Linked DNA regions of Homo sapiens. The main gene of each other region encodes a partner of the protein of the gene in region 2 in a complex. Each region holds a gene or a part of one and is shown on either strand. Other genes may lie near its edges. The genes, in order: USP12, WDR20, USP46 and WDR48.

The links.
Region 1: the proteins of WDR20 (region 2) and USP12 are in contact, whole or in part, in a crystal structure (PDB 5K1C), measured with the Homo sapiens proteins. Residues at the interface, in NP_653175.2 of Homo sapiens: Asn41, Ser42, Gly44, Ser45, Arg151, Ser170, Lys259, Ser260, Tyr261, Phe262, Gly263, Glu282, Asp283, Asp284, Leu285, His301, Lys304, Ser305, Trp306, Gln374, Asp375, Thr376, Arg516, Met517, His533, Glu534, Arg535; in NP_872294.2 of Homo sapiens: Glu207, Asn209, Thr210, Ser211, Thr213, His214, Arg217, Arg277, Val279, Phe280, Pro281, Leu282, Glu283, Leu284, Arg285, Phe287, Asp297, Met299, Gln342, Glu345, Tyr348, Thr351, Ser352.
Region 3: the proteins of WDR20 (region 2) and USP46 are in contact, whole or in part, in a crystal structure (PDB 6JLQ), measured with the Homo sapiens proteins. Residues at the interface, in NP_653175.2 of Homo sapiens: Asn41, Ser42, Gly44, Arg151, Lys259, Tyr261, Phe262, Gly263, Glu282, Asp283, Asp284, Leu285, His301, Lys304, Ser305, Trp306, Gln374, Asp375, Thr376, Leu509, Arg516, Met517, His533, Glu534, Arg535; in NP_073743.2 of Homo sapiens: Asn205, Thr206, Ser207, Thr209, His210, Arg213, Arg273, Val275, Phe276, Pro277, Glu279, Leu280, Arg281, Phe283, Asp293, Met295, Gln338, Glu342, Tyr344, Thr347, Ser348.
Region 4: the proteins of WDR20 (region 2) and WDR48 are in contact, whole or in part, in a crystal structure (PDB 5K1C), measured with the Homo sapiens proteins. Residues at the interface, in NP_653175.2 of Homo sapiens: Arg20, Ser364, Thr384, Glu385, Asp386, Glu524, Pro525, Leu526; in NP_065890.1 of Homo sapiens: Val191, Lys207, Gly208, Gly240, Gln241, Gln242, Arg243, Cys244, Ile245.

What each region holds. Positions count from the first base shown.
Region 1 is NC_000013.11:27,161,745-27,169,358, forward strand, and holds part of USP12 (ubiquitin carboxyl-terminal hydrolase 12), read right to left. Parts: intron 7,392-7,614; exon of another isoform or gene 7,193-7,391; intron 1,180-7,192; exon of another isoform or gene 1,116-1,179; intron 1-1,115. UniProt on the Homo sapiens protein: Deubiquitinating enzyme that plays various roles in the regulation of the immune response and inflammation.
Region 2 is NC_000014.9:102,191,498-102,199,111, reverse strand, and holds part of WDR20 (WD repeat-containing protein 20), read right to left. Parts: intron 5,650-7,614; coding exon of another isoform or gene 5,598-5,649; intron 4,175-5,597; coding exon 3,992-4,174; intron 3,986-3,991; exon of another isoform or gene 3,239-3,985; coding exon of another isoform or gene 3,208-3,238; intron 1,358-3,207; coding exon of another isoform or gene 1,265-1,357; intron 1-1,264. UniProt on the Homo sapiens protein: Regulator of deubiquitinating complexes. Activates deubiquitinating activity of complexes containing USP12. Anchors at the base of the ubiquitin-contacting loop of USP12 and remotely modulates the catalytic center of the enzyme.
Region 3 is NC_000004.12:52,656,112-52,664,051, forward strand, and holds the start of USP46 (ubiquitin carboxyl-terminal hydrolase 46), read right to left. Parts: upstream 3,191-7,940; 5' UTR 3,040-3,190; coding exon 3,004-3,039; intron 2,171-3,003; exon of another isoform or gene 2,063-2,170; intron 429-2,062; exon of another isoform or gene 200-428; coding exon of another isoform or gene 185-199; intron 1-184. UniProt on the Homo sapiens protein: Deubiquitinating enzyme that plays a role in behavior, possibly by regulating GABA action. May act by mediating the deubiquitination of GAD1/GAD67.
Region 4 is NC_000003.12:39,046,832-39,055,375, reverse strand, and holds the start of WDR48 (WD repeat-containing protein 48), read right to left. Parts: upstream 3,361-8,544; 5' UTR 3,351-3,360; coding exon 3,303-3,350; intron 3,085-3,302; exon of another isoform or gene 2,775-3,084; intron 1-2,774. UniProt on the Homo sapiens protein: Regulator of deubiquitinating complexes, which acts as a strong activator of USP1, USP12 and USP46. Enhances the USP1-mediated deubiquitination of FANCD2; USP1 being almost inactive by itself.

The DNA.
Region 1 (7,614 bases), on a different chromosome or scaffold from region 2:
GGTAGTGTGTGCCTGTAGTCCCAGATACTTGGGAGGCTCAGGCAGGAGGATAGCTTGAGCCCGGGGGGCAGAGGTTTCAATGAGGCGAGACTGCACCACTGCACTCCAGCCTGGGCAACAGAGCAAGGCTCTGTCTCAAAAAATAAAAAAAAATAAAAAAAAATTAAAAAGCCACTCATTAACTGTACATTTTTAACATAGTAAAGATTTTAAGGGTAATCTAAAACTTTGCTTCATGGATCATTAAAATACTCATTTTCAAACTTTGAAATGACTACGCTTTGTCAAAGGTAACTTGTGAGCTCCGTTACAACTCCTACAGTCCACAGTATCTTAATGTGCTTTCCATCCTTTCCTTAAGAGGGCATGGAGTCTTACCAACAATGACCATGTAAGGGTGATGTTGATATGTATTTATAGTACAAAGGACGTTCACATGTGTCATCTCATCTGATCTAATGGGGAAATTATTATTCCATTTCATAACTGAAACCAGTTAAACGGCCTACCCAAGTGAAAATAATTAGTGAGGACTCAAAGTCACACACACACAGATATGCAGCCGAAAAGTCAGGAATAAAAATTCCCCAATCTCTTGTTTGAAAAGGAGTAATTTTGTCTCAACCATCAAACCTGCAACACATTGCCCTGTAGATGTCATAACGAGTTTGCATGTCTAGAAATTTGGACCCCATCCCTAGCTGCTGCAGGGCTGACTTTAAGCTTCCTTTTCCATTTTGTGAAAATGGGGCTAATACTACCTAACCTTTCCTAATTCTGAATGGATCTTCAAGATGACAGATAGAGAAAGACTAATAACAACAACAAAATAAAATTAATGCTTTTGAAATACCTCAAAAAAAATCTATTGTTAATTTTCTTAGTTGTGACAATACTATCGTGTTACTGTTAAAGAGATTGCCCTTTCATTTTAGGTAGGTTTCTTATTGAGCAATATTTTGTTTTTTATCCATTCTGATAGTTCCTTTAATACAATGAAAGTAAGTTTGAACCATTTGGATTATTATGATTAATGAACTAGAAGAGCTTATTTCTTCCACCTGTGTTTTCTGTCATTCTTTTTCATTTTGTTTTTCCTATTTTCCTTCCCTCAGAGTTTGAATGGTAACGTTTAAATGTCTGCTGCTACGGAAGCAAGAAAATTCACTCCCTGTGTGGGTGTGTATTTATCCTTAATTTTTTAACATGTATATACAATCCAAAATTTTCCAATAGTGGTTGTTTAGTTGGCTCTTAAACAAGGAGGCCCTTAACAAGTTTTAACAACCCACTGAACTGTCCTTGTACCCCATCCATCTTGTTTTGTTGTCATTTTCTCTTCTTAAAAAAAATACAAGCAAATTTTGAAAAATCAATGTAATTCAATTTACCAGCATATTTTTACCAACTCCATTGTTTCTTATATCCTCATGACTGTCCTCTGGACTTACATTTCCTCAGGCTAAACACACACTTTAATAATCATTTTAATGTGAATCAATACTTGGTAAACTCCTGGTACTTCTTTAAATATGCCCCCTTCCTACTCTCCAGCCTTACTGTTCACAAGACCCGCTTTCACGCCAAACCACCTACAGAGCCTAAGAGTAACACATTATCTATTTACATCTGGTATCCCATCCCTCCATGTCCACATAATAAAGGCCATTCATTTTGCAAAGTTCAACTCTCTTCTAAGAAGCTTTTTCCTGAAGCCCTCTTCTCTCTCCCAAAACCACCTTCTCTTTCACATATAATTACCATTACTTATACCAATAAGAAAAACATCTCATTGCATGCATTTGTTTTATACGTCCATCCTCTTCTACAATACTGTAAGTAGAGCTGGTTTTCAATCTTCTCATCAGGACACACAGAGAAAATAGTATATGTAAAGCCCACAAGAATACAGACATAGCCAGGTGCAGTGGCTCACACCTGTCATCCCAGCACCTTGGGAGGCCAAGGCAGGAGGATGGTTTAAATGTAGGAGACAGCCTGAGCAATAGAGCAAGACCTGTCTTAAAAAAAAAAAAAAAAAGAAAAAAAAAAAAGAAAAGAAGCTACAGGTAAGACAGGTATGTCTGCTCTCACCAGAAAGGGACTGGCTAAGGGTCTCCTATCAACCCAGATACCTCCAGGCTTCCCAGGGGTCAAGAGGACTACTTCCTCAGCACAACTATAACCCACTCAAGACACACTGAATGGGAAGTTCCATAAGACCAGAGTTTATCACAGTCGTCTTCATGTTCTCAGAACCTACATGCAGCACGATATAATGTAGGTCTCCATGAATCCTTCCTCAAAATACTTTAGAAAAAGCACTCTTTATCCCTACAAAAAGGAAAAAAAAAAAAATCACTAGCATCAGGTAGAGGCTTAGTAGGTCACTAAAATAAAAAGCACTAAAATAAAATCAAAGGCAACAGTACTCTAACTCTACTGAAAGATATTATGATTTAAACCACCCTTTACAAGTAGAGAATGTGTGGATGCTTCCTCTACCCATGAAGCATTTCAGTTAAGAACATCTGTCCATTATCACTGAAATAAACATCTACTTCTTGTTTTCAGTTGGAAATAAATTTTTATTGGTACGTAGCTTTGGACATGTGGCTCACTACAGATAAATAAAGCAAGCTTACACATCTCTTCTTTAGACATAACATACTGTTTAGAAGAAGCTAATGGTCCTTCTGAAAGAGAAGCAGCAGCAAAGCATAAGCCAAGGAACAGAGAGGGCTATACCACCTCACACAGTGGTGCTCTACATTAAATTTCTTATAGTTTACACTATCACAAAAGTCTTCGAGTTTTGCTGTGAGAAAGCAAAGACTTACTAGTTTTTCTTCCTAAATAAATGTATATAAACTGCCACTCTAACCTCCTAAAGCAAATTCTGCACATAAGATAGCAAATGGTCAAATGTTATATGTAAGTTTTTCAACAATACTGGGACTCCAATAGAGAGTTTTCAGTTCAGCAAGTGTAACTCTTCATAATACAACTCTTCACTTACTACTTTCTCCCAACACCTTTAAAGTATGGTGTAGATATGTAAATATCCCTCTTCTAGACTAGGAGATTGGGACTGTAGGTTTTAGACAAGATATCTAAGAGCAAGGTGGGTAAGTTCAATGTAAGCCAACAAGAGATGTTATTCCCTTGTTATGCTCCCTAAAGGATAGAGCATAAGGAAATTAAATATAATAATATGGCCTCAGTAAACAGAAAAATCTGAAAGAAAATAAGTCCTGAAGCTAACTTGAATGCACACACCTTGTTCTAGTAATGACAAAAAGCTGGTGTGCTTTTTTTTTTTTTTAGTATAAAATAAGGTAAGATAGATTTTTCTTCTAAAAGTATTAGATTGTTGCAAAAGTAATTGTGGTTTTTGCCATTCTCAACTTATCTAAACTTGTAAAATATGTTTGAGAATGTCACAAATTAGACCAGTTATTTTTGTTCCCAGATAAAAGAAATAAATTATTCTATGAACTATTCAAAATAGAGAAAGAAGACAATCTACATTCTCAGCTTTCATATTATGAATTAATCCACTCAATTTCAAAATAAATTAGTGCTTTCTCAGGGGTATATACTACTAATAAACTAACGTTTCTTATAATGAAAAGGAACTGACAATTGTATTTCACAAAACAAATTTCCATTTTGGTTAGTATATGTTGAGCTAACAGATTAATTAGTAGTGCCAATGAATACTTTTTACCACAGGGAGGGGAGCAAATCATGTTAAAGGGCAGTAACAGCCAACATGACACAGTGATTACCATGGGCCAGGTACTAGTCAACAACCCTATGAACTAGATGTTATTTTACTCTCACTTTACAGGTACAGAGAAGTAACTTGTCCAAGGTCATACTCATAACTAAAGAAATAAACATGGAACCTCAAAAAAATTCAAATCCCTTAATGGTACTGGCAAAGAAAAAAGTGTCAAAAATTAGCAAATAGCTTTGTGAATTATTAGGCTGTTGGTGACGAAAATGGTGGTATCAGTAACCTCCAGTTTTAAAGAAAGAAAAATGTATTTAGACTGTAAAAACTAGGGAACTAAGTGAAATTCTTGCTTAATTATGTCTGATTCTATGCTTTTTATGTTATCTAAAACATAATTAGAACTCCCAAGATGTTCTAGAAATGGGCTACAGAGCAAAAAAAATAATAATAATTTTTTAAAAAAGAGCTCCTAAAATGATGAAAATGATACCAATAATCATTTATAAACTACTAAAGGATCAGAATTTTAGACCTAGAAGGAGACAAGCATATAAGGAATATCTATTAAAGAGTATCTAGTCCAATCCCTTTATTTCACAGATGAGAAAAATTAACTCGAAGTTTTAAGAAACTTTCCCATATATACACATCTAAATGTCAAAATCTGGACTAGAATTTACCTTCTGGTCCAACTGCTCTTTTCATTATACCATGCTGTCAAATACATAACAAAATACCATATTAAGTTTCTGGAATAGAGCTGCTAAAAGAGAAACCAAAACAAAATTAGATTATTTAAATCTAAAAAGGTTTCTGGAAAGGAATTATACAAAGTATACAAATGCTTAAAAGATACTTCCTGAGACAATAAAAGTTTCAGAAGAGCTAGAATAAATATGAGTTTAAAGGCAGGAAGAAAGGAATTTGGTAAATGACAAAAAGGAGGCAGACTCAGTTTGGGGGGACTTGGTCAAAAGTCTAGAATCAAATAAGGCAACAAGAAATGTGACATCATCTCGCTGCAACTGGCCAACATGGATCATGGTAGGGCAGATAATTAACCTACTTTGAGACCTATTAGCCACTTATTAGCAAAAGGTGGAAAGAGAAAGTCACCAGAAGGTAAGCAAAGCCATATGATATAAAATAAGACCATAATATTTATACACATGCCACATAATTGAATATGGTATTTAAAACTAGAGTTTTCAAGCATATTAAAAATTTCAGATCATAACAAGTCTTATCTTTGTGATAACTAAGTGCCTAAGATTAGAATAAACCACCTCTTATAAAATTCCATTTCTGCTAACTATATCACTTTACCCTCTAATAATCATTAAACATATAACCTGTCAACGCCCTAGTACCCTACCACTATGCTTTATTGGGCTCATCTCACCACCTCATCATTTTATAACATTAAACTCATGTTCATCCTAAAATTGGGCAAATTTTAGGATGGGCATGAATGATGATAATGATAACATGATAATCATTCGTGGGTAAACAGTGTAAAACTATATCTAGGGAATACAACTCAAGTTTTTTAAAAAGTTAAATAAAATATGCTCTGGCCAGCCTGACCAACATGGAGAAACCCCATCTCTACTAAAAATACAAAAATTAGCTGGGCGTGGTGGCACATGCCTGTAATCCCAGCTACTCGGGAGGCTGAGGCAGGGGAATCACTTGAACCTGGGAGGTGGAGGTTGCGGTGAGCCAAGATTGCAGCATTGCACTCCAGCCTGGGCAACAAGAGTGAAACTCCGTCTCAAAAAAAAAATAAAATAAATAAATAAATAACATATCCTCTGGGAGGTAAAAATTGACCTTCCTTTTGCTTTCTTGGAGTTTTTATATTTTCCAGATTTTCTATGAGAATGTATCATTTTTAATGTCCAAAATGTATTTTAGACAAATTCAAAAGATGAGTGGGCTTAAATAAAACTTCTATTAATACTTCTTCTAAATGTTCTCTCTCCACCAAGCTCAAACATTCCTTTGACCAAACATTTATGTAATAGAAGATTCCTTATTTTTGAGGTTTTCTTATTTTTTTTAAAGGCTTAAGAAGCTTAAGTTTTGTTCCCTTCTTAAATTAACACAGCAAAATTAGATAAGTAAAACAATGGCAACTCACATTTGAATGCTCCTATCATAGAAGTACTATTTTACTAATAAAATATTAATTTACAAATAAATATTTTATTAATAAAAGAACTACATCCACCCTATTTCTTGAGAAGGAAAAAGAAATTTCATTATTTAATATAATATTCTTGTTATATGAAGAGGAGACTTTCACACACACACATTCCCAACAACGCATGGGCTCTGAGGTTTGCCCCAGCTTTCCTTTTTTTCAGTAGTAAGGATAAATTGCACTGACCACACATACCCTTACCTGGATCCCAGTGAGACTGAGCAGTAAGAAAAGGCAAACATTTTCCATGTATGTCCTTTCTAATTTATGTTTTTAAAAATCGTGTTATTAAAACAGAGCAAACAAAAAAGAAAAGACAGCCAGTTTCACCTGTGCCTTTCTTCAGCAAGTAAAGTTTACCATGCTCAGGGTGCTGTGCTAGGCACAGGCTTTCTCAGAAGAAAAGCCCGTGGGACTCTCCTAGCACCTACCTTTACCAGCTTTGGCCTCATTACCACCATGTTCTAATGGATCTAATCTCATGCCCTTGTAACCGAGGGTGGGCAAGCAGCCAGGCCAGTGCCACCCCATGATCTAACTCTACCCACCTCCTGCACCAACAACTTCTCCGTTGTCTGGTCCCCCTCCCAACAACGCCTTCCTAACCATGACTCCTACAACCCAAACAGGAAGAGACAATAATGATCAGAGGCAGAGCTAACATTTATGGAGCTAACAGTAAGTAGTGCCAGCTCCAAAGCAGGGGCTGTCCTGACCACTACTGCATGCCCATGACGGACCACCCGGATTAGCCACCTCAACTGCAAAACACAGCCTCTCTACATGTATTCTGTCACTTTTCCCGTTATTTCACACTTATTAAGTATAATATTAAATATCAGGTAGGCAGGTACTCCGTGCCAGGCCCTGAAGTCTGAAACTACTTCAAAGGCAAAATAAACACTATGTGATACTGAAAATGTATTATTTCATAGACAAATTAAAAACAGGTATTTCAAGAGGTACCCTTGAAAATGTACTCACTGCAATCTAAACATAATCACTCATTTGGTTCAGGCTATAATACTAACTTATGAAAAACAAGTTTTACTAATTTTCACATGTAAGCACAACACTAGTGATCTAAAATAAGACACAGCTGAAGAGAATTGTTTTTAACAGTTACTTAACCCAATTAAGGTATTGCAGATTTGCCCAGGTACGTTATTTTGACAAATGAAAAAATTATGTACACTTCAGTACTTATAGAATAAAATTTCAACTCATCCTAAATGTTTTCACAGCTGCTGATTCTGAGAAGTGTTCTGTTTAAGTCCAGCCCATCTTCTCTCCACCATTCCACACACACACAGCCACATCATCCCTGCTTCACCCGGCATACCAGGAGGAGGCAGGAAGGACTTTGGAAAACTTTTATACTGAATGCAGAACTTGGTACTCCAGATCAAACTGCAGAAGTAAATGATAATCCTTCCCCTTCAAGGCCCTCACAATTGAGTAAGAGTTCAAAGAAAAATTTACTGCACAGTAAGTATGATAAGTGCTACTGAGATTACAAAAATGCCATGAAACTGTATGAAGGGGATGGAGGGTCGGGTTGGACAGGGGTAGGATTATTCAAGTAAGGCTCCCTGCTTAAGAGACAGGCACACACACTCGCCAGACAAGAAGGATACGGGGTGTGGCAGGGAGGAGCGTTCCAAGC
Region 2 (7,614 bases):
CCCTTTGAAAGCAGTAGCTGAGATGGCCAGAATCTTGGAGTATAATCAGGCCTCAGACCCAGGCCTTCTTTGTTCTCACCATCATCTCTCCAAAGAACCTTTCATCTAATCTCAAGGATGTGATTATTATTTCTATGCTGACAACTGCCAAATTGTAACCCCTAGTTTTGTGCTCCAGATCCATACATCCCACTATCTACAGGTCTCTCGAACTTAGCAAGTACAGACCAGAACCTCTGATCTTCCCCTCCATTCCCTGACAACTGCTCCTTTCCCAGTCTCACCCAACACAGCAAGAGACACCCAGAAACCTGATTTATTAATACACCTTTCCAATTCAGTCTCCAAAAAGCAGCCAGGGTACCTTTCAAAAACACCAATCTGCCTGCCTTGTGCACCTGCTCCCTTCTAAGGAATCCCGTACTTCAGGCTAAGAAACAAATCTGGATCAGGCCGTAGGTGATGTGGCCCTCCAATCTCATGCCCTTACTTCATGCCACCTTCCCCAGGTAAACCGTCCTTCTTTCAGTTTCCTTGGGCTCAAGGGCCCTCATGTGCTATTCCTTTTGCAGGAAAGCTCCATCTCCAGTTCCTTACCTGGTTGGCCTTCTTCTCACATGAGGCACAGCTTAAAACATAGCACTTCGTCCGAGAGATGTCCTCTGCCTCCCAGTTTAAAGTAGACCTCTGTGTTGGCCAGGCGTGGTGGCTCACGCCTGTAATTCCAGCACTTTGGGAAGCTGAGGTGGGTGGATCACTTGAAGCCAGGAGTTCCAGACTAGCCTGGCCAACATGGTGAAATCCCGTCTCTACTAAAAATACAAAAATTAGTCAGGTGGCCTATAATCCCAGGTACTTGGGTGGGTGAGGCACAAGAATAGCTTGAACCTGGGAGGTGAAGGTTGCAGTGAGCCAAGATTGCGCCACTGCACTCCAGCCTGGGTGACAGAGTAAGACTCTGTCTCATAAATAAATAAATAAATAAATAAATAAATAAATAAATAAATAAATAAAGTAGACCTCTGTGATTCTCTCCCTTTCTTGGGCCTGCTCTCTTGCCTCTTACATCACAAAGTGTCACCATCTGTGGTCACCAGTGTTTCGGGGGTGGTGCTATTATACCTCTCTTCCCTCCTGAGAGGGGTCACAGGAGGGCAGGTTTTGCCCACTGCTGCAGACCCAGTGCTGGGCATGTGGTAGGTAGTCAAGGTCCTGAATGAATGAAACAATGGCCGCAACTCTAGTTCAAGCCCTCAGCTCTCACCTGGACAGTTACTAGAGCCTCCTCACTGGTCTTGCTACCTTCATTCTGTCTTTCTTCATTCCAATCCACCTTCCACAAGTGCTGACAAGAGTTCTAAAAAAACACATTTGATCCTGTCACTCCCTTCATTAAAAGGCCAAAGGTTCCCCCACATCTTCCAGTGTCAGTTCCAAATTGCTTCACGTGACATGAAAAGGCTTTTATAAGACAAGCTGGTTCCAATTTATCTTTCCAGCTTCGAACTCTGACACTCCAAGTCCCACACTGTGATGTGGCCAAGCTGTTACTGGATGTTCTTTCACATGCCTAGTTGTTCCTCCAGCTTTGAAGGCCTTCCTTACCCTCCTCTAATGACTATGTACCCTTTAAGACCCACATCAAACATCACTTTCTAAAAGCATTTCTTGGAACTCCCCCAGTGAACTTAACATTTTAAAAAACTTTAAAATGCATACTAAAGAATTCCTGCGGCAGCTAGCCCTTGGTATTTTGTTCATATCGCTGTGCTGACACGTGCCCAGTACTCTCTGTCCATTCTTACTAAACTGTGAGCTCCCGGAAGGGCAAGAGCTCATCTGGCAACCATGCATGGTGGGTCCTGTAACCAATGAGTTTCTGGAATTAATTTCTGGTTCCAACTCTATCATCAACTTGCTACCTGATCTGGACAATTCACTTATGTGCTCTTTGACTATTTCCTCATCTGTAAAATGGGAACAACTCCCCACCCTCCCTGTAGAGGCCATAGGTAAAAGTGCCTTGAAACCTGTAAATGTCACACCACAGCAAAGCACGACACGATGACTACTTCACCACCATTCCTGGCACTCTCTAAGGAACAAACCTCCGGTGACCCTTGCTCTTAGACATTCTGACCAAAATCTGATAAAAATGTATCCACATGGCCAGAGGATCTCCTTACTATGAAGGGCAATCGATTTCAGCCTCAAGCTGTAAATGCAAAGCTGGCATTAAACCACACACAGTCTTAGCATTCTAAATAGCAATTTCTCAAATAAAATGTAAAGTGAGTATGAGATAACTCATGCTTAAATCATGAAGAATGAGGAGCTGCCTTCCAGCCTGCAACTCCCAGTCACCAGGGCAGGGATAGTTCTGGCCAATGCAGCCTGAGTGCTCCCAGAGCCCTGAGATTCTGGGGACGTGTGGTCTCCAACTCCCTGCCCTCCCCCTGCCACGACACACAAAACTTTCTTGTTCTCTAAGCGGCATTCTGTACCATCCTCGGCCAGGGCTGCCTCCGGGTCTTGTTTACTAACAGCCCTTACATGGCTCCAATCCCTGCCCCCTCCAATCACACTCTCCCCTACCTAAACAATAAAAACCCACAATGATTCCAAATTCACAATTTCTGCTAACAGTGCAGAGGAGGCCAATTTTGTGCGCTGCTCCCCAAACTCAGCACCAAAAAAATAATCATCCAGCTACTTAGAAATCACTTCTGCAGATGATACTAAAAAAACATCTAGGTAAATAAAATATTTTCTGCTTAACTTTTTTTTAATGGAAAATGGGATTAAATACTTTTCCTCTACAATCTGTCAGTCCAGATGGCAAGTTTTGTTTCCAGTCAACTCAGAGGAAACTAGAAGAGATGGCATGGTTCATAAGATCTTATCAAATCCACTGGCAATGTCAAACAGGAGCACCCTGGGTGGATACTGATTTGCATGAATAGCAAGTACCATAACTGCAAAAGAATCCAAATTTTAACTGCCATTTGTCAATTTGAATTTTCTTCCCCAAACAAAATTATTTCTTAAAAACCATACTCTATAATGTGTTTTTGTTCCAAGTTAATGATGTTAAAACCATGCAACAATGCAAAAGGGAGGGGGTCCCACATAGCCTGACCCTTGCGCCTCAGGGGCAAGGTCCCAAGTAGAGATTGGAACCCAGGGCTTCTAACTCAGCAAGCCTACCTTATCTTTTCCACTTGGTAGAAAAGTCATACTGAAACAGACGAGGAAGAATATTAAATATGAAATAGCAATACTTGAGGCTGAAAGATGCTCCAACAGCTTTAAAAAATATAATCTACTTGGCAATTTCTATATGCCACATTTAACAGTCCTGACATGTTCCTGAACAGACAGCTCAGATATCTCAGGCTCTTTCCAGAATGAAATTGAAGATACTAGAAACCCCAGTACATACTACAACACTGGCAAAAGCTATGTCATGTGACCAAACTTTAAGCGCCAGGATTTCCAACTATGTCAAAGATGAGTTTACAGTAACTATTTTCAAGAGCAAGTGAAGTACTCCTTAGCCAAATGACTGTCAAACATACATACAAAAGCTTTGGCTACAATTTAAGCAGCCTAAGGAAATGTCATCAAGTTCTTTGATCTGCATGAAATGTTCTGGTGATGTGAACCAACTTTGGAATTCCACATTTTCTTACTTAAATTATAAATACCGAGTTACAGTACTGTCCCTATCTCCATTATAGAAGAGTTTTAAAACACCTGTTATAGACACCTGAGCATGCTCCATAAAAATGCACAAAACAGTCACCCCAAGGAAGAACAGGTAAGGTCAACAAATTAATCCACCACATTTAAACTTGGGCATACTAGGTAGGAGGGCTGGGCGAATAAAAAATGGGCTTAGCTTGAAGTGCAAAATAAGGCCGACTACCCTCGGTAAGAATGTATCAACTCTTAAAGGGATTCTTAACAGCTAAGACAGGGTGCTACTTACTTCCTCATTAAAAAGTTTGCTAGTTTCTTTTTTGATTGGGTCTATAAGCTGGACTTGGCCTGCGGAAAAGCCCACTAGGAGAGAGACACTTTCTGCTGTGGCTGTTAGGTGGTTGAAGTCATGACAAGTAGGCTGTGTTCCTTTGTATATCCTTTTATCTATTGGTTTACTCAAGTCAGCAGCCTGGAGGAGAAAGAGAAAAATACATACAGTAAACAGCACATTGAGATGAGAAATCTAAGTTATGCTACTTTATACTCCATTATGATGTTTCATCTTAAAAACAAAGTGATTTAAAATGTTTTTTCAGTTGTGACTTAACATCATCTAACATTTTATAAAAGCACTTTCACATACCTTAGCCAATTAGATATTATTAGACTATCTATAATATGTTTACAACTGTTACTTTCACAACTTATTCTCCTTCAAATATATGTAACAAAGACTCCTGGACTTCAGCAGGAAATATCCTTGAGATATTAAATTCAGTATTTTCAAAATGCATTTCAAGCAGTGTCTAACAGAGTAACCACATAAAAAGCTCGGCTTTCAAATGTATCTACAGCACCTACATGCCCACTGGCCAGTTACCTGCAGCCCAGTGGTTCTCAAAGTGTAATCCCCAAACCAGAAGCAGCAGCAGCAGCATGTGGGAACTTAGAAATGCAAAAATCTCAAACCTCACCCCAGACTAAATGAATCAGAAACTATGGGAGTAGGGCCAGCAAGTCGTAAAGAGGCTTCCAGGTGATTCTGATGCCCGCTCAAGTCTAAGAACCACTGCTGGAGCCCACTCTATACAGGTGGCTCCCTTCCTGGGTCAAAATCCCTCTTCTGGATTAGGTTTCGGGGAACATTACTTATCGAGGCCATAATCAAAGGACTTTACATGCATTGTCCTTAATCCTAACAATAATGCTCCAAAGTGGACAATATTTTACCCATTTTACAGATGAGAAAACAAGTTTAGGGAAGTTAAATAACTTGACCAACGTCACCATACCTACCTAAGTAAGTGGCAGGGCTGGATTTGGAACCCAGGTCTGTTTGACCATTAAGGGGATGGGGAGAGAGAGTCAAAAGCAAATGATTTCTCACTTGGGTGAAAAGTGATTTTTCAATGTGCCCTCCCCACTTTCAAGAAGGATTCTTTTCTTCATGAGAAATGTCCTGTGGCATCCCAATATGCTGGGCTTTTATTGGTGAAATAAGGGAAACCCACCCCCTCCCACTCTTGTCTGAAAATCTCCAGTGGAGACAACTAACCCTGAAGCAGAACTTGTCCCTCAAGACACCCAGTTCACGCTGTGTGGCCCTCTGGGGCTCCCGGCTCTAGTTCTCTACTGACCGCCCCCTCAGGTTCTGAAGATTTCTTTCTTCCAAAGAGGCCTGTGACATCGAACCAAGTATTCTAATGTTGGACTTTCCAATAACAAATATAAGTAATGAGTAGAAAAGAGGACCTCAAAATTACAGGCGTCTTTGAGCAAACTCAAAACCTTGCACATGTAGAAGTCTGGACCTGAGCGGTAACAAGTAGTTCTGGGAGCCCCAGGGCAAAGGAATGAGGGTGCATGCCATGCGGACACTCTCCCAGCCTCACCTCAGTTAAAACGGAGATGAGAATCTCTGTTCTACCAACCTCATGGGATTGTCTGGAGGATGAAATAAGAGAATATATACATGAAAGAGCCTTGAAAAGTGTAATACAAAGCATGATACAAAACAAAAGGGAGTCCTGACTGGAGCGAGGAGAAAAGCGGCCAGTGGAGGGGAGCGGCCGCTGTACAGCAAGGCAGGCTGAAGGCAGCTCAGCCGAGTGCTGCGAGTGAGCAGCGGGGCCTGGGACGATGGCCACGGACAGGCTGTCTGAGGAAGGCAGCTTCTGAGCGGCTCGGATGGCAGGGAAAGAGAATCCTGGCCTGAGAGAACACCACATGCCATTCATCTCAGAACGAGGAAGACAGCCACAAAAAAAAAAACAAAAAAAAAACCTACAAATATAAAATAAGATATAACTGGCAGCTAGAGAACAAAAATCCAATTTGAAATACGAACAATTAAGTTATACATAATTACTGTATCAGCATATTCAACTCTTGAGACTTTTTTTTTTTTTAGTTTGCTTAAGAAAAATAAAAAATCAGCTAGGTGTGGTGGTGCATGCCTGTAGTCCCAGTTATTCAGGAGGCTGAGGTGGGAAGACTGCTTGAGCCCAGGAATTCAAGGTGACAGTTAACTAGGATTGCACCACTGCACTTCAGGCTAGATGACATAGCAAGACAAATGACAGCAACAACCACTTAGGGAACTTTCCCCTGAAAGAATATACCTAAAATTATGCGCTGAAATACACAGATCAATTTAAAGGCTGGCCAGAAATTAACAGAGAAAATAGCCTAATATAAATTAAAAAATACGTAATGTTTCTCAGAAACAACAGAGGAAGTAAAAGCACCTGTTTTTCCAAGTACTGCCACCAGTTTAGAGTTAGACTTAGGGACCCCTCACAACTATAATGGCTTCAGTTATTGGTATATTTTTACATCCCTGCCTCCCAATATGGAACTTTACTGAAAAGATGGAAGCATTTTAAATGAGAAGAGATTATTTTTACTCTTAAATCAGGTAAAATGGGCCAGAAGGCACGGTGGCTCACGCCTGTAATCCCAGCACTTTGGGAGGCTGAGGCGGGTGGATCACCTGAGGTCAGGAGTTTGAGACCAGCCTGACCAATATGATGAAACCCCATCTCTACTAAAACACAAAAATTAGCCGGGCGTGGTGGTGGGCACCTGTAGTCCCAGCTACTCGGGAGGCTGAGACAGGAGAATCGCTTGAACCTGGGAGGCGGAGCTTGCAGTGAGCCGAGATCGTGCCACTGCACTCCAGTATGGGTGACAGAGCGAGACTCTGTCTCAAAAAAAAAAAAAAAATTCAGGTAAATATTCTAAAAATATCCTGTTTATTCTACTAATTTGCTTAACAAACTTTCTTCTTAGGTCACTGCTCTTGAAGTGTACCAGTCCAGGACTAGTTTATTAGTCTGCAGTCAAATGCACTGCCTGTAGTACAGACATTGAGAATAAGAGTTTAGAAACTTTTATGGCAACGGACAAATTTTATATCTGTTGAATGTAATGATAAAAAGTTAGAGTTTATATTCTGTATGTCTTTTTCAGTTTCTTTTCCTATTAATTCTTTTTATTTTACAAAAGTATCAATCCACATAGACTAAAATTTTTTTAAAGTTGATCTGTCAACACTAGTGTGAGTGGCACTGTCTAGAAGACACAAAAGTAGACCTGGCTGACCCCAAGGAACACTTAGAATCTCTCTCACCTAAGGTCACTCCTCCCTCCCCAATCCCTTTCCAGTGGCACTGACCAAACGGGAACAGCAGAAGTCCAGCCAGGCAACATGTCACCTTTACCAAGTAAGAATTACCAAGAAGTCAGAAGTGACTGCTAGGTTATGTGCCCATAAAAAAAATTGTATTTCTGAAAAATCTATGGACTCCACTCTTGGGCCAGAGCTTTTTGGAGCCCCACCCCAGATAGAGAAAGGCCAGGTCACCCAGTGCCTGCCTTCATGTCCAAGCACAACCGTCTCCCACTCGC
Region 3 (7,940 bases), on a different chromosome or scaffold from region 2:
CTTTCTGAACACATATCAGCCTGTTCAAAATATGTTAAACGATGTGCTTAAGAAAAAAATGCAATCACCATTTGCTCTTACTACAACTACTCAAACCAGCTGGGACCAAAGTTAGGAGCGGGAAGGGTCAGTAAGAGGCCCACAGAGGAGCTAAGCAGTGAGAAGGGACCTGTAAGACACCTACCTGAAAACAATTCATTATTGAGCAAAGAATCTAAAGAGAGGTCCAGTTAATATTTACGTCTGATCCAGTGAAAAGACAGCAGTTTCCTCATACCCAGCCTTCTCCTCTGGGAAGGAAGACTGGGAGGGACAGTGGGGGCGGTGGGTGGGGGATTGACCTGAGCAGGGGGCGGGGTTAAGGATTCCCACTCCAGCCTTCCTATACATGGGAGGTGTTTATATTAGTGGTTGCTTCCACCAGGTCTGAAATGGCATGATCTCCACTGTCCCTTAAACACCTGGTAGATGACATAACAATGAGAAAGATGATGTTGACAATGACACTCACTGAGTTCTAGCCATGTACCAGGCCCTGTGCCCGAGTAATACAACAATATTAACATCACCTTTTGGTAGATAAGGAAAGTCTAAGACCGGACAACTTGTTCAAGGACACAAAGCCAACATGTGTTAGAACCAGGACCTGCCGGGTATGGTGGCTCACGGCAGTAATTTGGCGCTTCGGGAGGCTGAGGTGGGAGGACCACTTGAGCCCAGGTATTAGGGACCAGCCTGGGCAACATAGGGAGACCCAGTCTCTATGGAAAATTTAAAAATTAGCCAGGCATGGTGGCACGTGCCTGTAGTCCCAGCTACTCAGAAGGCAGAGGTGGGAGAATCACTTGAGCCTGGGAAGTGGAGGCTGCAGTGAGCCACCATGTTCATGCCACTGCACTCCAGCCTGGGTGACAGTGTGAGACCTTGTCAAAAAAAAAAAAAAAAAAAAAAAGAACCAGGACCTGAACCCAGGAAGTCTGACATTAGAACCCAAACTCTGTCACTCTCTAGACATGGCGTCTAAATACAACATCAGACTCCTTACTTAATGAATTACTGGTTCCTCACTTCATCTGGGTGATGGTCCTAAATTTGGTACCTTTTTAGGTCTCCACCTGAGATGTCAACTCTCAGGGCAGTATTGGCCTGCTCCTCTCAGGTCCTCCCCACACCCTGTCTCCCTGACTGAGTTTCACTGAAACACGTTGTGACATTCAGCCCAGGTGTGCCAGAAAGCCCCCGCAGCACTGAGGGTGGGTGGGGGGACGCGTGGGGGGAGGTTGGGGGCTGGCTTCCTCTAGGGGCATGCTAGCTCTCAAGTTTCCAGCCTGCTTCTACACAGAGAGGTGTAACCACACACAAGCAGGACAAGAACACCACCAAGGGCTGGGTCGGAGCCTCACTACCCTGTAGTATCCTTAGGCCTGCGGCCACACCAACAGACATAAAAGAGTATTCAAGCTGCTCCCGATTCACAGTTCCCTCAGGAACTGGTCGTAGGAGAGAAACTGAGAAGGCATCACCTCTTCACAAGCAGCCCCTCCACAGGAATAAGAGGAAATCTGACTCCTCGCAGAGAAAGGAAAAAAAGAGAAAACAGAAAGGCTCTAGGATCCACTCCCCGTATGGAACTCGCCCGGCACCAACCAGTACCTGTGCAGCTATCACTCTGGGAGGCCCCAGCATTTGCTTTGCTGGCCGTGACAGTGGCACGTCCCATTGTGCTGAAAGCTGAAGCCAGCGGGTCTCAATTCCACCCCTGAGCTAACACAAGGCTTCTTAATGCTCCTTTGCCATGTGTTGATCTTGCAACAGAATGTGGGACAGAAGATTTAAAAAGCTATGTGATGGGGGAAGGGCAGCCAGATCACCTTACACCAGGGCTTCTCCATCAAGCTTCCTTGGATTCCCTTTAGGGGCCAGTATTACTAGCTTCAAGGGAGGTTTTCCTCAAACTGGCACTGTAAGAGCACGTGTTGCCTCCGGGGACCCGCTTGGGAGGGGGCTAGAGGGGAGGCGGGGTGCAGTCTAAAGAATGTAGGCAAAACACACATCATCTCACCCTGCAAGGGACAGCAATGCCTTACTCCAATCTGAGCTCCCCAAAGGCTCTGACAAGTGGAGGCGCCAGCAGGGTCCAGCCTGGGGACCCAAGGGCTGGAGGTTCTTCCTACAGAAAAAGGGAAAGCAATGGGGGAAACCCAAATTAAAGTGACCACCGCATCATGGGCTCGGACTGCATCAGAACCCAGTGATGTCCCTGGCTGTATCCATGCCCGCCAGCCTCCCCTAGGTCTACAGCGGATCAGGCAGGATAACCCTGGAGACCTCCTCCAAGCCCACAGCCCGCCCCACCCTTAGGGCCTGCAAATATTACCGCCACAGAGCCTTGTCCCTTTTTCACAGATGGGGAAACTGAGGCATGCGGAGCAAATTACGGTGCTTTTTCAAACCAGGTTGAAGTTCACTTCTCCAGCCACAATTTTGCACTTTTTTTACAGCTTTATTACATTTCCGATTTCTCCAGATACACAATTGCTATTGCAAAGTGAATTTTAAACACCTCGGAAGGACTGAACTCAAAATGAGATGAGGGCAGTCTGGACGTCCAATAAGGCTGTCTTGACCGCAAGAAGAGGATGGGTGCCCCCCACCTCCAGCTTATCCCCCACCCCCTCCCCGGGGACGTTCAGGTTCGGTCGCTTCCCTTCCCTCAAGCCGCTTCCACCGCAACCCGAGGGCGGGGGGCGCAGCAGCGCGGCCCCGGGATCGCCGGGCGGGTTCCGAGGTCCCGGGGCTGAGACGGGCGCCGGGGGCTCGGGGACCCTCCCCGGCCGCTGAGGTGGCTGCGGCCGCGCGCCCAGCTCGGGGGCCGGGAACTTCTGGCGGCGCGGACCCCGCCGCCCCCGCCGCCCCAGCCACCGGGCGTGTGTGCAGCTCGGGCTTCCCTTTCTTTGCCTCGCCGCGAGTCGGGCGCGACCCCGAGGCGGCTCGGCCACTCACCATATTACAGATGGAGGCGATGTTTCGGACAGTCATTAGTCTAAAGGTTGCAGCGATCCCTCACCGCCATCTTTACAAGGGGAAACCGGGACTGCCCATGGTGGCGCGCTGGCGGGGAGGCCGGGCGGCAGCGCGGCGGCCTGGGGTCCGGCTTTCAGTTTGGCTGGGAGAGGGAGGCCGGGAGGAGGAGGCGGCGGCGCGGGGAGGGCGGGGAGGGAGCGCGGAGGGGCGGGGAGTGGCGGAGCGAGGGAGCCTGGGCCGCGGCCGGCGGCGCGGGGAGGAGGGGCGGCCCGGGCGCGCCGCGTGAGTCCGAGCCGGCCGCTCAGAGCGCTCCAGGCTGGGTTCCCGGGCCCCGCCGCGCCGCCTCCTTCCCAGCTCGCCCGCCCAGGCCTGGCCTCCTGCTTTTCCATTTGATTCCCTGCCTCTTTCTATTCGGACTGGAATGCCGGGCCAGGCTCCGGGGCGCGCCGCTGCGGCAGCCGCACCTCGCAGGTCCCCCGGCCGACCCCGACGCGGAAGCGGCGGCCCTCCTCGCCGTCGGGGAGCCAGGGAGCCGGGGACGGTACGGTGCGCGGGGTGGGGAAGCGGGCGGCCCAGGCCGGGGCGAACCCGGGGCCGCCTTCCGTCCTCGCTTTTTCCTCGTCGCCTTCCTCCTGGCGGGCCTCGGCAGCCCCCGGTGTTTATTTTTTGGCGAGGGGTAGGGGTGGCGACGTCCAACTTTTAGTTCCTCCCGAGGGTTCCAACCAGATGGCACCGGCGGGGACCCAAGAAGTAAAATGGGGCGAGGACACCGGAGCGGTCAGAGAGCCCTCGCCAGCTGCGGGCCGGGCGCCCGAGAAAGGGCGCCGGGAAGGGGGAGGAATCCGGGTCTGGGCGGAGGCCAGCAGCGGCGCGCTCGGGCGGCTTGTGACATTAGCGGGTCCAAAGGAGACGTCCCGGTTCCGCGCAAGCACTAGGGACTGTCCAAGGAGTGGAAAGAACGAAAACAAAACTTTTCCATATCTTCAAGGCAGGCATACCCCTCTCGGGTGCACCCAGCCTCTAGTTGTTGAGATGGGCGCTGTATGGGATCATGCACATTTCCCGCATTAAAGGTCGTGGCTGCGGGCTCAGAGCGCGAGTCTGTGCACCACTTAGCAGATAGGTCCACGCGAATTGAAGGGGCCCGTTTCTGAATGTGTGGAACAGTTACACATACAAGGTTGCAATTCGATGCTTTCAAAGGAGAAATTGTACAAGTGAGATGCGTGATAAATTCTTAGATCAGTGTATTTAATGACAAATTGAATCAGAAGAAAAATTAGTTGAAGATAGCTTTTATCTAACCAAGAGTAAAGATTTGAGAGCCGTTGATTGCTAATATCCCTAGAATCTGGGGAGGAAACAGTAAGACAGACTTGTTGACTGAAGGTTTTGGGAGTCATGTCACTGTGTTTTCCAGTGGACATGAGAAATAATATTCCTGCTTAAGTCTTTCAACCTAAATATTATTTCCAAATACATCCTGATGATAATTTCTTCCATTGTAAGTCATGACTGATTTTCTTCTCTCTCTCTCTGTTTTTTAAGAGACAGGTTCTCGCTATGTTGCCCAGCCTGAGGCTGGGCAGCCCCGAGTCATCCCAAACTCCTGGGCTCCAGCAATCATCCCACCTTGGCCTCCCAAAGCGCTGGGACAACAGGCGTGAACCACTGCACCCAATGTTTACATTCCTGATCTCCTTTAATCGCCACCATAACTATCAGCTGGTACATGCTATTATCTCCTTTTTTGCAGATCAGTCACATAAGGCTTAGAGGATCAAGGATCCTGCCCAGATGACTTACCGAAATGTTACAGATTAAGTTGGTGTGGTAACCTGGGCTGAGCACTCTGGGAGAGGAAGAGAAGAGAGAAGACAGGAAACAACTGAACTATGACCAATCCCAGCACGGAGGCCCAGAAAACTTTAAGATTTGAGTATTAATGTCTCAAGGTCAGGAGCAACCTCAAGGCTAAAACTCAGATCTCAGGACTCAATTTCACAGAAGTTCCACTATAAAGGCAATAATCTAAAGCTTTAAATGATATGAAAATTTTGTAATAAGAGTTCAGTATTTCTGCCAACATTGGCGCATGGATTGCAAAGTTCACAGGATTGAAAACACCATCGACATAATGGAAATTGAACAGCATCTGATTACTGAGTGCTATATCAGCAAGTTAAAAGGATCTTTTGCATACCTTTTAATGGTATATATCCTAAAACTGAAGTGTTCAATATAGACATCCAGATTGAAACTCAGGCAGTGAATTACATACACAACAAATCAGTTGAACATGGCAGAGCTTGTCAGACTTATGAAAGATTAAATACATTTTACATTTCCACAAGTGTGGTATTCACAGGTCTAAATTGGAAAATTCTTGGGTTGAAGAAGAATAATCATAATCTTAGCTTCACTCATTGAGGAAACATTATTCAGGGATGATAAGAGGTAAAATCTTAAAAATATTGACAAGCTAATGAGAGAACTTTGAGGTAAGCTGATATGCAGGTATAGTTAGGACTGGGAAAAGCAAGAAAATGGAAGGATGGGTTAGAGGGTGGCACTACACGGCTGATATAGTTTGGATATCTGTCCCCATCCAAATCTCATGTTAAATTGGAATCCCCAATTCTGGAGGCAGAGCTAGAAGGCAGAGCCTGGTGGAAGGTGTTTGCAACATGAGGAAGGATCCCTCATGGCTTGGTGCTGTCTTAACAATAATGAGTGAGTTCTCCCGAGATCTAGTCATTTAAAAGGGTGTGGCACCTCCCCCCCCCCCCGCCCCCGCCAACTCTCTCTTGCTCCTACTCTGCCATATGAATGTTTGTTCCCCCTTTGCCTTCAGCCATGATTAGAAGCTTCATTAGGACTCCTCAGAAGTAGATGTTGGTGCCATACTTCCTGTATAGCCTGTAGTACCATGAACCTCTTCGCTTTATAAATTACCTGGTCTTGGGGATTTCTTTATAGCAATGCAAGAATGACCTAATACAGAAAACTGGTACTGAGAAGTGAGTCATTGCTGTAGAGATACCTGAAAATGTGGAAGCAGCTTTGGAACTTGGTGACAGGCAGAAGTTGGAAGAGTTTGTAGGGCTCAGAAGAAGACAGAAAGATGAGGGAAAGTTTGGAATTTCTTAGGGACTGGTTAAATGGTTGTGACCAAAATGCTGATAGCTAGGACATGAACAGAATGCACCCAAGCACTTTGCTAAGGCAAAACATGCGTGACCTTTGCTCTAGTTCCCAATAATTTCCTTATTTCCATTCGAGACCTCAGAAGCCTGGACTTCAAACCAAAATGCTGATAGTGATGTGAACAGTGAAGTCCAGGCTGCTGAGGCCTCAGATGGAAATTAGGAACTTACTGGGAACTAGAGCAAAGGTCACACAATGTTAACGCCTTAGCAAAGAGCTTAGCTGCCTTCTGTTCATGCCCTAGGAATCTGTGGAAGTTTGAACTTGAGAGTGATGATTTAGGGTATCTGGCAGAAGAAATGTCTAAGCAGCAAAGTGATCAAGAAGTGGTGTGGCTGCTTCTAGCCACTTATATTCAGATGTGGGAGCAAAGACAAAAGGTAGAACTTATATTTAAAAGGGAAGCAGAGCAAAAAAAGTTTGGAAAATTTGCAGCCTGGCCATGTGGCAGAGAAAGAAAAAAGCTTTTTCAGTAGAGGAATTCAAGCAGACTGTGGAACAATTACTTGCTAGAGATGTTTGCAGGATTAAAGGGGAGCCAAGTGCTACTATCCAAGACAATAGGGAAAAAGCCTTGAAAGCATTTCAAAGAACTTCAGAGTGGCTTCTCCCATCACAGGCCCAGAAGCTTAGGAGGAGAGAATAGATTCATGGACTGGGCCCAGGGCCATGGTACCTTGCACAGCCTTGGGACACTGCTCACCACATCCTAGCTGCTCCTGTTCCCACTCTTGCCATGGCTCAAAGGGGCCTACATACAGCTTGGACTGCCACTTTGGAGAATGCAAACAGTAAACCTTGGTAGCTTTCATGTGGTGTTAAGCCTGCAGGCACACAAAGTGCAAGAATCGTGGATTCTTGGCAGCCTCTGCCTAGATTTCAGAGGACATATGGAAAAGTCTGTTTGTCCAGGCAGAAGCCTGTTACAGGGGTGGAGCCCTTACAAAGAACCTCTACTAGGGCAGTATAGAGGGGAAATGTGGGGTTGGAGGCTCCAACAGGGTCACCGCTGGGGCACTGCCTAATGGAACTATACGAAGTGGGCCACTGCCCTCCAGACCTAAGGATGATAGATCTACCAGCAGCTTGTATTCTGCACCTGGAAAAGCCACAGGCACTCAACTGCAGCCCATGAGCGCAGCCTTGGATTCTTTACCCTGCAAAGCCATAGGGGCAGGACTGCTCAAGGCCTGGGGAGCCCACCCCTTGTACCAGTGTGGCCTGGATGTGGAACATGATGTCGAAGATTATTTTGGAACTTTAAGATTTAGTGACTTCCCTACTGGGTTTTGGAGCTGTGTGGATCCTGTAGACCCTTTCTTTTGGCCAATTTCCCCCTTTTTGGGATGGAAACATTTACCCAATCCCTATACCCCCATTGTATCTTGGAAGTAAATAATTTGTTTTTGATTTTACAGGCTTATAGGTGAAAGTGACTTCCCTTGTCTCCAATGAGGCTTTGGACTTTGGACTTTTGAGTTAATGCCAGAATGAGTTAAGATTTTGGGGGCCTATTGGAAAGGCATGATTGTAGTTTGCAATGTGAGAAGGACATGAGATTTGGAGAGGCCAGAGGTGGAATGGTATAGTTCAGATATTTGACCCAGCCCAAATCTCTTGTTGAATTGTAATCCCCAATGCTGGAGGTGGGGCCTTCCTTGTATGATGTGTTTGGAACATGCAGGCAAATTCCTCATGGCTTGGTGCTG
Region 4 (8,544 bases), on a different chromosome or scaffold from region 2:
GTACCTGGGATTACAGGCATGCGCCACCATGCCGGCAATTTTTATATTTTTAGTAGAGACGGGATTTCGCCATGTTGGCCAGGCTGGTCTCGAACTCCTGACCTCAAGTGATCTGCCCACCTTGGCCTCCCAAAGTGCTGGGATTACAGGCATGAGCCACCACGCCTGGCCTCCACTGATTATTTAGCAATATTTTTAAGTCTCAAGGGTTTGTCTTGGCCTACAACTTGACAAGGAGCTCAGGGCTACTGTCTCGTGGTCTGAGACAGTCAGGAGACAAAGTATATTTACTCCAAGTACCCATGTATGCTTTTTCCAAGATGAGAAGTTTTCTTTTTGATGTATAAGAGCAAATAATGTGGTAAAAAGTTCAAAAATACAAAGTTGTGCATATTTCAAACTAAAAGATATCCCATGTCCTGTCTTATCTATAATCACACAATCTATTCCCAAAGGGATAATCACTGCTATTACCCTTCCTGACTTTTAAAATGCATATTTCCTTTGTGGAAATGGGAATATGCCATGTTGACTTGCTTTTTTGACTCTCTCTCTCTTTGAGGCCTCCCTGGAAGACGAGCAGATCCTAGCACCATATTTCCTGTAAAGCCTGCAGAACTATGAGCCAATTATGCCTCTTTTCTTTATAAATGAGCCAGTCTCAGGTATTTCTTTATAGCAATTCAAGAATGGCTTCACACAACACCCTTGCATAAGTAGGGACAGATACATGCATATGCAATTTTGTAGAATATATTTTTAGATAAGGAATTCTGGGCTAAAGGGAATGTTTATTTAAAAATTTGACAAAGCAAGACACAAAACAGTGAATACTATGGCTCCATTTATAGCAAAAAAATATGTTAAGTCAGGTACACAAACAGCAAGAGGTATAGAACAGCGGTTCTCAACCAGCGGCAATTTTGCCCTTGAGGGGACATTTGAAAATGTCTGGAGACATTTTTAGTTGTCACAACTGGGGAGATGCTACTACATCTAGTTGGTAGAAGCCAGGGATGATGCCAAAGAACCTGTGATGCATAGGACAGCTCCCTCCCTCAGACACAGCGAAGAATTATCCAGATGAAATTTCAAGAATGTTCAGGTTGATAAACTCTGGTCTAGGATTAAAACATGACATTGCCCGCAGTAGCTTTCTTGGAAGCATGGAGGGCAACTCTAATTTATGTTTTTGTTTGTTGGGATTTTTACAATGAACACGCATTAGTTTAAAAAACACCTCATAGACAATGATGGTTCAGATGAAATCAATCCCTGTGGCTTCTCAGGCTGCTTCTATACCTTAGGGACAAATTCCGAAAGTTCCCTGAATCTTCTCTTCAGCAGGTTAATCTAAGACAGCTCTTTCAAAAGTTCTTCATAGGAAATAATTTCAAGTCAGTTCACCAATCTGATTGCTACCTATGAAGAACAAGGTCCTAAGTGCTGAACACCAAACTCTAATTTTGTACTTTGACCAGTGAAAAGTGGAATTATCTATCACCTGCCTCATTCTACGTGCACTGGCTCACATTCAGCCTATTGGAACACTGTTTTTCCAAACCTGCTGCAGTTAATTTACATTTTCTCCATCCCATACTAGTACAATTGCCTTGTAAGTCTTTTTAAAATATATATACTTTATTGCATGCATTTTGGGAGTGGGCAGGCCTGGGAAGGAAGCAAGCAGGGAACACACTGCAGTAATAGGAGTTTTAAGTCTTAATGCAATAAACTGAAAGGCCTGATTAACTACCCTTACTCTCCTAAGATGTACACCACCATAGAGTCTATAATACAATCGGGTTACTTTTTGAGTTATATTTCAGTCCCAAGGAGACATTCTCACTACCTGCCTTGGATGCTGGTGATACTTAAATCCTATCACTAATGCACTGAAAAACACCTAATAGGGTGAGTTTAGACTTATTAATTTCACTCATTTCAACAAACATCCAGTGAGTGCTTAAGACACTGTACTGATCAGTGAGATCAATAAAACCAAGATGTGAACTAATCAGAAGACTTTATGGCCTACCACCTTCTGCTGGGATTACCTTACTGAAGGACCCCTTCATCTAACTACCTTTATCTGACACTTGATTTCAACCCGCAGAACTCCATATAATGCTGTGTTTTATAAAGAAAGCCTAGGTGTTAATTATTTCTACACCCTTTCAATCCCTTTTCCCCTTTGGGGGCCACCCTAAGTGCTAGGTAAATGTTTAATGAATAAATGCACCAAACTGCCACTACCACATACAATATACCTGCAGGCAAACACCTGTAAGAGGGCTTTTATTCCCTGCATCACTGAAAATATTAAGTGGCAATAACTATTTTTTAATATTATTATTATACTTTAAGTTCTAGGATATATGTGCACAACGTGCAGGTTTGTTACATAGGTATACGTGTGCCATGCTGGTTTGCTGTACCCATCAACTCGTCATTTACATTAGGTATTTCTCCTAATGCTATCCCTCCCCTAGCGCCCCCAGCCCCCGACAGGCCCCGGTGTGTGATGTTCCCCGAAGTGGCAGTAACTCTTAAGCGTAACCGCAAACAAAAGTGAATTCACAAAGGCATAAGGCACAAGACACACACGGTAAGATTAGACAACTCTTTACCACATGGACAATAAATTACACAAACAATAAAGACAGATTCAGCGATGCACACTTAAGATGAAGAAATGGTGAAGAGGAACTTAAATACCAAAACAATTAAAATTATAATTTCCCCACGCACATTCTTATGTCACTTAAACCTACCCAGGGGACAGCTCCCACATAAGAGAGGGCTGGGGGCTCCCAAGTGCGGAATCCTCAGCAGAAACCCCGCAGGGCCGTTGGCGCTCCGCCGCCTCGCCACGCCCCCGCACAAGCCGCTCACTCCTCCAACGCCCACCCCCCTGGGAAACCCCTGGAGGCCTCGGCTCCGACGCAGCGAGGGCAGAGCGCTTCGAAGAAAGACAGGGCAAGGGGGAGGCAAGTGGGCGGGGAACGAGCCTATCCCGACCCCGCAAGTCCACTCCTACAGAAGAGCGGCGACAAGCAATCCCGGGCTCAGAATGCCGCCCACGAGGGTCCCGGGCCTGGGCCCCAAGGGCCAAGCAAGCCGACCCCCGCCCCTTCCTCAAGCCGTTAGCGCCGCGGCCCCACCCCTCGTGGCCGGCCGCGCCCCGCCCCGTTCGCCCCATGCCGCTACCCCAGCTGGTCGTGGCGCCGGGCACCTTCTAGCTGGAGTGGGCCCGGAGCTGCCGGCCGCGTCCGGAAGACCGAGGAACCGGGCTTCCATACCTGCACTTTCCTCCGCCCTGCTGTGTTCTGCCGGTGATGGGCCGCCATCTTGCATGTTGACACTCCGACGTCACTTCCGGAGGTGGCTCAGAGCGGGAGGATGTCCTGCCCCTTTCCCTTTGGCCAAGGGTTAGTGGCGGGGCTGAAGGTAAACAGGCTGTTGTGTTTCCTCGGTGCTGTTAGTTGCTGTGTGGCCGGTAGCCATGTGATGAGGTAGATGCACCTAAAAACAAAACCACTGTGCAAGTATAATGCTGATGGGGAGAGAGCCACTTTTCAGGGCTGAGGGAGCAACACGAATTCACTTGTGTGGTCCTAGACCCTGGCTTGCGCTCTTTTCCGCGCCCTCCCCGAGAGGCCCAAGCAAAACGAAAGCACTGAAAGAATTAACAGTGCTAGACATGGCGCTGGACCATCTCCTGACCTTTCCTAGGCAGGCAGGAGAACCAAGTGAACCAAGTGATTTACTGTTAAGTACCTAAAAATGCGGAGAATTATGTCGTGGCCTCAAAGGGGGAGAGATAGAAGTCCTTGCAAAGGAGGTGGCCTCCATCTTCAGGGGGAGCAAAGAATCCGTTTAAATTAAAAGGATAAAAAGTGGGGCCATAAAAGAACGAGATCATGTCCTTTGTAGGGACATGATGGAGCTGGAGGCCCTTATCCTTAAGCAAACTAACAAAGGAACAGAAAACCAAATACCGCACGTTCTCACTTATAAGTGGGAGCTAAATGATGAGAACACATGGACACAAAAGAGGGGGACAACACACACTGGGGCCTTTCGGAGGGTGGAGGGTGGGAGGAGGGCGAGGATCAGGAAAAATAACTAATGGGTACTAGGCTTAATACCTGGGTGACAAAATAGCCTGTACAACAAACACCCGTGACACAAGTTTACCTATATAACAAACCTGCACTTGTACCCCTGAACTTAAAAGTTTAAAAAAAAAAAACAAGACAAAAAGATGTTATAGGAAGGCGAAAACGGTACACCAGCTAAAATTGTTCCCAGAGACAATTCTAGTTTAAATCATCTCTTATACTGGAACAGTTAGGTTTGACTTAAGGTGGTTTTCCTGACCACTAATTATAAGAGCTGAGGGTGATCAGACCCTCTCTAGTGAAAGTGAATCCTATAGAACTACACTGTGGGATATAGCATATGATGTATCTGCTAGTCATTTGTGGCTCTTGAGCACTTGAAATATAGCTAGTTCCAGTTGAGATATGTAATTGTAAACTACCCCCAAATTTCAAAGACTAGTTTGAAGAAAAGAATGTAAAATATCTCATTAATAATTTTTTGTATTGATTTCATGTTGAAATGATGTTTGGGGGTATATTAGGCTAAATAAAATTTATTAATTTTGTCATGGATATTAGAATATTTAAAATTACATATGTGGTCACAAATTTCTGTTGCATAGTGCTAGTATATAAGTAATGCTTAGAAAAGTTGTCTTGACAAATACTTCTTAAATTAATAAAGAAATGTGAATTAGATGAGTAAAAATTGTGATGGCAGAAAGCTTCTTAAGCAAAACTGGCAGTGATAACTTATAGGTAAATTACTGCATCATTACAGGCTTATTCATTCACTGATTCATGTATTCATTCATTTAACAAAATATTATTTAGCATATCATATATGCCAGGCACTATATTAGGTGTTGGGGAATCAGTGGTGAGTGCACATAGTCATAGAACTTAGAGTCCCAGGATGAGACAGGAATTAATACAGAGATAAGTACTATGAAGAAAGATGATTGTAAGACAGGAAGTATCTTGAGTCAAGAGTTAACTAGGCAAGGAGAGGGAACAGTCTGAGCAAAGGTCTTGTAGCAGGAGAGAGCATGGAACATTACAGGAACTGAGAGTCAAGGCTTAGAGTACAGAGAAGTGAAAGGAGTATGCAGAGGCCATACCCAGCAGGATCTTTTAGACCAATGGGAAGCTGTTGAAATACAGGTAGGGAAATAATATGTCTGTATTTTAAAAATTGCTTAAGTGTCTATTGAGCACCTATGATGTGCAAAATACAATACAGGTATGTTGCTCTGGACAATATACTGGTACTTGCTAGAAATTGATATGTTGTAGTCCTGCTTTGGACCTGAAAAATATTGAAATAGTGAAGTTCTTTCAGTGGGCAGAATTTTCACCAGTATGTTTTGATGTTCAGTTTGGCTGAAAGGAGAAATGGTCAATTCAGGGTCAGAGGATAATTTTTTGGCCAGTTTGTGAAGGACATGGAAAGAGCAAGACTGGAGAACTAGTGACAAGGAAGACTCCAGAAGGGATATAGTGATGGACCTCTCAGAATAAATCTTAAGAATCATATGGATGAAATGAACTGCTTTGTGATGAAACTCAGCCTCACTGCCTGCTCAGTAGAATCATGAAATAAATGGCAATGGCAATGGCAACAGGATTGGAGCTATGCATGGGATCACCAAGCCACCGCTGGGTGTTCAGAAGCAGTGACCAATACCCCATGCTCTGGGAGGGTCAGCCAGTCACATGTAGGCAAGTCTATTCCATTGGTCATTGGCCCTCCCCATCATTGAGGGAGTTCTTATTTGTCCTCTCTAAAATATGTTTATTCTAGATTGAGATTTGCTTTCCCTGCTCACTGTACTTCCGCTGACACCACCATCTAGGGAATTACTCAGTGCTTTAGACACTATCATTTTCTCTAACACTATATTGCTTTTGACCAAGAAATTCACTCTGCAATGAAAGAAGTAATGCAATGGGCTATTGCCCATGGAATTTATTGGTCTAATTGTGTACTCAATCACTGAGAAGTATCTTGTCTTATTGAAGATATATTGAAGACTTAGCTATGGTGCCTTCTGGGAGATAACCCTTTTTGATACTGTCCTGTAGGATGCAGTATATGCTCTGAACTACTGTCCAATATTCAGCACTCTTTTTTCCTGTTCCTTTTATCTATTGCTGTTTAACCATCTGCAAAATGCAATGGTTTAAAACAATTACAACCCTTACTTTACTTACAAATCTGTAATTTATGCAGAGCTTCATGGGAACAGATTGTCTCTGTTCCACTATCCACTTCACATCAGCTGGGGCAGCTAAAAGATTGGGGCTGGAATCATCTGAAGACCCCTTCTCTCACATGTCTGGTGACTGATACTGGTGTTGGCCTAGTCCTTAGCCAAAGCTGTGGCTAGAACACCTTCTCATGATCTTTCCACAGCACTATTTGGTTCCTCACAATATGCTAACTGGGTTCCAAGGATGAGCATCCCGAAGAAGAAAAATCTGGTTGAAAGCTATAATGCTTTTTCTAAACTCACAGTGGAAGTCATGCAGTGTCACTTTAAGCCATAGTCAATTCATTAGAACTTAGTTACTAAGGCCATCAGTGTCTAAGGAGAGGGGATTAGATGACTCCTTTTTTTATGAAGTATCAATAAATTTGTGGATGTATTTTTTAATTGACACATAATAATTGTACATATATATGGGGTACAGTGTGATATTTTGATACCTGTATACAATCTGTAATAATTGCTTTGGGAAAATTCAATATCCACTCTTTTAGCTATTTGAAAATATGGAATAAATTATTGTTAATCATAGTCATCCTACAGTGATATAGAACACCAAAAATTATTCCTTCTACCTAGCTGTAATTTTATATGTGTTAACCAACCTCTCTATATATAATCCTCTCCTTTACCCTTCTCAGCCACTAGTTACCACTATTCTGTTCTCTACTTCTCTGAGATCAACTTATTTCTCTTTCACATATTGGTGAGAACATGCAGTATTTATCTTTCTGTGCCTGGCTTATTTCACTTAAGATAATGACCTCCGGTGCTATCCATGTTGCTGCAAATGACATAATTTTATTCTTTTTTATGATTGAATAGTATTTCATTGCATATATGTACCACATTTTCTTTATCCATTCTTCTTTTGATGGACACTTAGGTTAACTCCGTATCTTGGCCACTGTGAATAGTGCTGCAGTAACTGTGGGAGGACAGGTATCTCTTTGACATACTGATTTCCTGTTCTTTGGGTAGTAGTGGGATTGCTGGATCATATGGTAGTTGTAGTTTTAGTTCTTTGAGAAATCTACACACTGTTTTCCATAATGGTTGAACTAATTTACATTCCTATCAACAGTGTATGAATTCCCTTTTCTCTGCATCCTCACCCTCTGCATTTGTTTTTGTCTTTTTCGTATAGCGATTCTAACTGGAGTGAGATAATATCTCACTGTGGTTTTGATTTGTATTTCCCTGATGATTAGTGATGTTGAGCATTTTTTTCATGTATTTGTTGGCTATTTATATGTCTTCTTTTGAAAAATGTGTATTCAGATCATTTGCCCATTTAAAAATTATTTGGGTTTTTTTTGCTATTGAGTTGTTTGAGTTTTTTATACTTCCTGGATATTAATTCCTTGTTGGATGAATACTTTGCAAATATTTTCTCTCATTCTGTAGGCTGTCTCATTCCTCTATTGATTGTTTCCTTTTCTGTGCAGAAGCTTTTTAGTTTGATGTAATCCAATTTGTCTATATTTGGTTTTGTTGCCTGTGCTTTTGAGGGCTTATCCATAAAATCTTTGCCCAGGCCAATGTCCTGAAGCATTTCTCCTGTATTATCTTTTAGTAGTTTCATAGTTTTGGGTTTTATATTTAGGTTTTTAATCCATTTCGTGTTGATTTTTGTATAGGGTGAGACGTAGGGAGTCTAGTTTCTTTCCTTTTCATATAGGGGGTCAGTTTTCCCAGCACCATTTATTGAACAGGCTGTTCTTTTCCCAATATGTTATAGGGCCTTTGTTAAAAATCAGTTAATTGCCAGGCATGGTGGTACATGCCTGTAGTCCCAGCTACTTGGAAGGCTGATATATGAGGATTGCTTAAGCCCAGGAGTTTGAGGCCTGCAGTATACTACAATTGTGAATAGTCACTGCACTCCAGCCTGGGAAACATAGCAAGACCCAGTCTTAAAAAAAAAAAAGGGGGTGGGGGTGGGGGTGGGGGGATGGGGGTGGGGGTGGGGGGTGGGGGGCTGTGTGCAATGGCTCACACCTATAATCCCAGCACTCTGGGAGGCTGAGGTGTGTGGATCGCTTGAGCCCAGGAATTCAAGACCAAACAGGGCAACGTGGCAAAACCAGTCTTTATCAAAAAATACAAAAATTAACCGGGCATGGTGGTGCATGCCTGTAGTCCTAGCTACTCAAGAGGCTAAAGTG